Homo sapiens: one gene and its partner. The protein of the gene in region 1 interacts with the protein of each later gene in a pairwise test. Each region holds a gene or a part of one and is shown on either strand. Other genes may lie near its edges.

Region 1 (3,500 bases):
ATCTTCCCACCCAAGCTGCCCCTCACCCCGTGTCCTCAACAGCGAGCTACTGTGGCATCCACTCTGACCAGCAAATGCTTCAAGAGTTACAAACACTCTCATCAGCACCCGACTCTGCATCTCCAAGAGCTGAGGGCTCACAGCTGCCCCCAAGCACATGGCCCTTCAACTTCAAGGTCCAGCTGTCAAGACTAAGAAAGCAGCCTGCCGGGGTTTTGCTGCCTCTAAAAGAAAGACACAGCAGAACGTGACCCGCGTGTGACCCTTTGAAAAGCGTCTGTTTTGGGCTAACTGGACATATAAATGCAGCCTGAGATTTTAAACCAAGTTATTTCATTTTTAAGTTGAAATTGATTCCAACTAGTATCTTAATATTGGTATTTAGTATATGTAATGTTGAATAATATCAAGCATTAATTTGATACTATTACTTTGTATACTATTTACATTTAACTGCTTCATGAAGTAGACAGTTGCTGTGATATTTCCAGTTTGAATCGAGCCCTGAGCACTGAGGGAGCCCATCTCAGAGGCGAATGGCAGCACTGGAATGGCAACTTAGGATCTAATTGCAGGATTCTGGATTACAGTTTTCCTGCATTGAATAACTGTCTACTGAGGACTGCCCAGAAGCCCAGTGGTCAGTCCATGCAAAGCTTCCACACTTCGTCTTCAGGAACAAAGGCGCTGACTCTCAGAACCCCGACACACACTCCCTGCTGCACTCTACGCACACCAGTAGCTATTTCACAGAAAAAATAAGTATGTCACGTAAAGGTATTTTTCGGTTTGTTTTTGGGCTTCTTGATGGTGACTAACATGCCTGATTAAGAAGGACGCCACACAAAAGCAATCTTTCCTGCGGCCTGTCAGGGTACACAGGGCCCTAAGATGTCCCAGGGGCACCACACAGAGATGTCCTGTCACTTCCTGGCCAGCACCCAGCGTGCCTTCGACAGCAGCCTCCCTGAGAAAGCAGTTCCAGGCAGCATCCGCCCCCTGCAGCTGTCCTGAAAGACAGGGAAGCCCTGCTGCCTGCTGCCCCTGCAGGAAGGCCCAGAGCTCTCTGCGTCTCTTGGGCTGTTTCCTTCACCTAAAGGCTCTGCTGCTGCCTGCCCCGACTCCTGAGGGCAGAAAAGCCCCACCCTGTGTGAAGGCCCAGCCCCAGGAGCACTCCCACCCCCTCCCACAGGGCCGCCTCTAGGCCCAGCCTGCGGGCCACACACCCTGCCCCCAAGTGACTGCTACGTGCAGTGGTCATTTGGTTTCTTTCATGTCAAGCACAGTGGCAGGCCAGGTGGAAATCAAGGTCTCTGCTCCGTGACTTACAGCTGGACGATCCTGGCTGCTAATTTACTCACTCTAAGCAGAGACTCAGCGAGAACCAGAGGCCACCGTCCACTCTGCACCTCTGCTCTGAGGATGAGGGCAGCTCCCGCAGGTGAAGCCTCTAGCATGTCCTTTCCGGTATTCAGTGCACGTTGGACGGCAGAGCTTACTAGTCATTAGGGCCCCAGAGCCTGTGCTACCTAGAAACAAGCCCGTAAATGTTGGCGGGAATGGGGGGTCCGCATGTGAGGCCCAGCCCTGCCCATCACAGGAAACGGGAATCCCAGGGGTCCCAGAACATAAGCAGATGCGGGAAACCACCAGAGAGCCCGTTCAAGCCAAGTCATTTGATTTTTGTCTCCATTATCTCAATTTCCTACTTCACTTCGCAGGACGGTGCTTCATCTTCTAGCTGAAATCTTATTACTGCGCAACACCTACCTAAGAGACAACTTATAATTACTGCCCGAAGTGAAAAATTGACCTCCTCACCACCGCCCTGGCTGAGCAAGGCACGCGAGATGCACTCGTCCGCAGAGTCTGGGCACAGGGAGCGGCCGTGCGCATGCCATACGAGCCACCGCTCCCGTCCCACCCAAGAGCTCAGGGGCAGGGCCGGGCCCTGAATTCAGGTCTCTCCTAATTAATGGTCAGGCCATCAGAGAGGCCTGGAAGTGCTGTGCCACCAGGAACAGTAGCACAGCCAAGCCAGGCAGGGGACTCCTCTGCTTGTCCCCTGCATGAACTACATGGATCCGGACCATGGCTCTCGGCTCCTTCTCACTCCCAGGGCAGACACCAGTGTCATGTGGACCAGCCTATCACCCTGGGCCTCCCAAGAGCATGTGAACATCACCACGTGGGGAAAAACTACAACGCGCCAGGTGTAACCACCACATGTCAACGACAGTACAACCCTAGCCACGAAGGCCATCAAAGGAGATACAAGGAAATACAGCCCTGATGCAAAGGTGATGATGCTAACACCTGCCAAGGCCCAGAGGCAACACTGGTTTTCAGTTACATTATCTCTCTTACTTTTCTGTGTTTCAAAAACCTATCAGCGAAGCAAAAGCAAGCTCCATCTCCCAGGCGTTGCACTAACGCAACACGCTGCCACTCCGCACTCTACGCAGGGGCAGACAGAGGCAACGAGCCCCTCCTCACAAGCCTCTTTCCACAGCACTTTGAGGACCCCACTGCAGAGGACCCCCACATTCCCACCACCCCGAGCTCCTGAAAACACTGAGGGAAATGCGTCCCTTTGTTGCAGAGCCTAAGGTCTCGCAAGGACACACCTGGCCCACGGGCTGAATTCTAACCTGATTTCATAAGACCAAAACCCACAAACCCGTAATCTTTTTCCGGAATGAGTCATATGCCAAGATTTGGGGGAACAGCCCCCATGTTCACCAAGCTACCCTCCAGCTACATGGCGTGTGGTTTTCATACCAACCAGGACAAGCTTAGGCTCCTGGAGTCCTCATGCTGCAAAAGGCCTCGGTTTCAAGCTCTTTCCTCCAAGAAGAACCACCTCCTCTTCTGCCCTTGTCCTGACCTCAGGGCTTGACCCCTTGATACCCTGCTCCCCAAGACACAGGCCCTCCCTGCCCAGCTCTCTCGGGCACCGTGCGGCCCCCCACCTTGACGTGGTAGTGGGCATCCAGCAGGATGTTCGCGGGCTTGAGGTCCAGGTGCAGGAGTGGCGGGGCCATGCAGTGCAGGAAGTTCATGCCCACCGCCGTCTCGTGGATGATTCGGAACCGGAGATCCCATGGCAATGGCTCCGAAGCCAGCAGCTTTTCCAGGGAGCCCGTCTCCATGTACTCCATGACCAGGCCGACAGGTTCGCGGCAGATGCCATACACAGGCAGGATGTAGCGAAACTTGGCCATCTCCATCTTCTTGGCTTCTTCCAAAAGCTCCATGCGCTCCCTGAAAAAGTTCAAAGGCATGAAGAATACGCAATGGTCACTCAGCCACAAACATGGAACAGCACCCTGGCCAGAAGACGACCAGCTCCAGAGGGCTGAGCAAATGCCTCAAGTGCACACACATGGGGCACACTTCAATGTCACATCACGAATGCAGGGCTTTCCAGAGTCTCAGTCCTGAGGCTGCTGAAATGTACCTATGCATCACAGGGTTATCACAAGTGAGGAGGAGGGAAA
Region 2 (3,500 bases), on another chromosome or scaffold:
CATATATCCCTCGCCCTATTAAAAAAAAAAAAAACAAAACCCTGTTCTCCAGGCAATCTTTCCAATTTACATAAATGACAAATCTGTCCTCCCAGCTACTCAGGCTTAAAAACATTACAGTTGGATTTGTCTTTTTCTCTTGCCACAAACAACTGGTCTGCTAAATCCTCTCAATTCTACTTTCAACATATATTTAGAATCTGACCACTTCTCACACTTGGACTGGACTACTTGGCTAGTATCATCATCATTTCTCCCTTGGATTACTGCAAAAGCCCAAAAGCTTTCTCTGCTTCTGCGCTTGCCTCCTGGTCTATTTTCAACAAAGGAGCTTGTGTGAGTCTGAAGTCAGATTATGTTACTCCACTCAAAACCCTCCAGTGGTTTCCCATCTTGCTCAAGAGGAAAAGCAAAAATTCTTACAATGGTCTACAAAGTCCTAAAGAATCTTGTCCCATTACATTGCTGACCTAATCTACTGCTACACGCCAAGCCCACTTATTCCAGTTAATCCATACTTGATGTTTCTTGAACATATCAAGCTTGCTCCCATATCAGTTTCTTAGAACTTGGGCCCTATGCCCAAATACCTCCTTAAAGCTATTGCTCAAATGTCATCTTCTAAGTTAGGCCTTTCCTAACCATTTTACTAAAATAACACCCCTCCCTATCCCCACACTGCCTATTCACATCTTCCCCGTCTTTTTTTTCTTTTCTTCTTCGCCATAACTATCGCTTTTGACCCACTTTGTATTTCATTCATGTAATTCTTTTTATTTTTTTGAGAGATGAGGACTTGCTTGTGTCCACCTCAGCTGGAGTGCAGTGGCATGATCTCGGCTCATTGCAACCTCTGCCTCCTGGGCTCAAGCAATTGATCCTTGATCTCAGCTCTCAAGTAGCTGAGACTACAGGCGCCACCATGCCCAGCTAATTTTTGCATTGTTTGTAGAGACAGGGTTTTGCCATGTTGCCCAGGCTGTTCTTGAACTTCTGGGCTCAAGCAATGAGCCCACCTCAGCCTCCCAAAGTATATTACAGGCATGACCCATTGCACCTAGCCTTGTTCATGTAATTCTTTATTCTTTCTCTTTTCCTTTCTCAAGTAGGATGGTAAGCTTCACAAAGGCAGGGATTTTTGTTTATTTTGTTCAGTGTTATATCTCCAGTGCCTAGAATGGTGCATAGCAGGTGTTCAACAAATATTTGCTGAGTTGAATAAAATTCAGACAGCATAAAACATAAAATGAAAAAAACATATTTAACAAAAGATATCACAAAGTGAAAAAAATAATAATAGAACAAATATGGAGAAGATATCTACAGCACATATAAAAGACAAAGGACACGTAAAGAAATCTTATGAATCAGTAAGAAAAGGACAGACAATTAAAAGAAGGTCAAAAGACAAGAATAGGCATTCAAGAAGAAAAACTATAGGATCAATAAGTGTAAGAAAAGATGCTCACTGGCCATGAGTGGCAGCTCATGCCTGTAATCCCAGCACTTTGGGAAGCTGAGACAGGAGGATTGCTTGAGCCCAAGAGCTTCAGACCAGCCTGGGCAACATAGCAAGACTCTGTCTCTATTTAAAAAAGTTTTGGATTTTGGAGCATTTCAGATTTTGTATTAGGGATGGTCTACCTGTACTACAAGATATTAAAAAAGAAAGGTACTGTGAATGAGGCTAACTTAGGTCTACTTCTGACTCTACTAGTTTTCTTACTTAACTTTAGGCTCTGTGGCTTTAGTTTCTTCATTTGTTTAGAAAGAATACACACGCTTCCTGATTTTAAGACTTATTACAGGCCAGGCGCAGTGGCTCATGCCTGTAATCCCAGCACTTTGGGAGGCCAAGTTGGGCAGATCACCCTGAGGTCAGGAGTTTGAGACCAGCCTGGCCAACATGGTGAAACCCTGTCTCTACTAAAAATAAAAAAAAAATTAGCTGGGCATGGTGGCAGGCACCTGTAATCCCAGCTACTCGGGGGGCCTTGGCAGGAGAATTGTTTGAATCTGGGAGGCAGAGGTTGCAGTGAGCTGAGATGGCACCACTGCACTCCAACCTGGGCGACAGAGCGAGACTCCATCTCAAAAAATAAATAAATAAATAAATAAAACTTATTACAAAGCTATAGTAATTAAATGTGTAGTACTGGCATAACGACAGACATATACAAAAATGAGATGAAAGTGAGAGTCAAGAATAAACCATTGAATTTATGGTCAGTTGATTTTCAGAAAGGACACCAAGACAATTCAATGGAAAAAGAACACTCTTTTCAACAAATGTTGCTCAGACAATGGATATCCACAAGCAAAATAATAAAGTTGTACCCCAATCCCTTGCACTATAAACAAAATGAACTCAAAATGGGTCATAGGGCTGGGCATGGTGGGTCACACATGTAATGCCAGCACTCTGGGAGGCTGAGGCAGGAGGATTACTTGAGCTTAGGAGTTTGAGACAAGCCCGCACAACAAAGTGAGACCCTGTCTCCACACACACAAAAAATCAAAAAATTAGCTGGGCATAGTTGTGGGCCCAGCTACTTGCAAGGTAAGGCAGGAAGACAGCACGAGCCCAGGAGGTTGAGGCTGCAGTAAGCCATGTTTGTGCCTCTGCACTCCAGCCTGAGCAACAGAGTGAGGCCCTCTCTCAACAACAACAACAACAAAAAAAGTATCAAAGACCTAAAGAAAGAGCTCAGATGGGATGATTTCTGGGGTATGTTTTCTAGCAATAAAATTTATGGTTATATGAAAAGAAAAAATGCATTAATTTAACTATTAATTCATTCTATAAACACGTTGCTTATCTACAATGTGGCAGTCGTTATGCTATGTGCTGGCAAGATGTGTATTATAAAATTCTTGTCTTTAAGGACCTCCCAATATAATGGGGAGACAGGAAAAGTTTAAAATGATGTAGTAATAGCAGAGAGGTAAATATAGTGATTTGACTCCTATGGCTTCAACTACTATCTACATGTAACAACTCTCCCCAAATTCCAGACTCATATATCCAACTGCTACTGAAATCTCCACTTTACTAGTGAGTTATATTTATCCTTTCCTCCTCTCTTTTTTTTTTTTGAGATGGAGCCTCGCTCCCATCACACCAGGCTGGAGTGCAGTGGCACGATCTCAGATCACTGCAATCTCCACCTCCCGGGTTCAAGTGATTCTCCTTCCTCAGCGTCCCGAGTAGCTGGGATTACAGGCATGCGCCACCAGGCCCGGCTAAAATTTTTGGATTTTCAGTAGCAATGGGGTTCTGCCATGTTGGTCAGGCTGGTCTTGAACTTCTGACCTCAGGCAATCCACCCGCCTCAGCCTCCCAAAGTGCTAGGATTATAGGCGTGAGGCGCCACGCCCGGCCTTCTTCACCCTTAAGATCTGAATATCAGTAAGATTACATACATGACTGTGAAATAAGTCCATCTGAAACATAAAGATAAACCAGGTACGTTTTAGAATTTTGAGATTTTGGAATGTTA

Evidence for each region.
Region 2: the proteins of RIPK4 (region 1) and PREPL interact in a two-hybrid assay, tested with the Homo sapiens proteins (one large-scale study listed by BioGRID).

What each region holds. Positions count from the first base shown.
Region 1 is NC_000021.9:41,753,553-41,757,052, forward strand, and holds part of RIPK4 (receptor-interacting serine/threonine-protein kinase 4), read right to left. Parts: intron 3,265-3,500; coding exon 2,973-3,264; intron 1-2,972.
Region 2 is NC_000002.12:44,351,495-44,354,994, forward strand, and holds part of PREPL (prolyl endopeptidase-like), read right to left. Parts: intron 1-3,500. UniProt on the Homo sapiens protein: Serine peptidase whose precise substrate specificity remains unclear. Does not cleave peptides after a arginine or lysine residue. Regulates trans-Golgi network morphology and sorting by regulating the membrane binding of the AP-1 complex.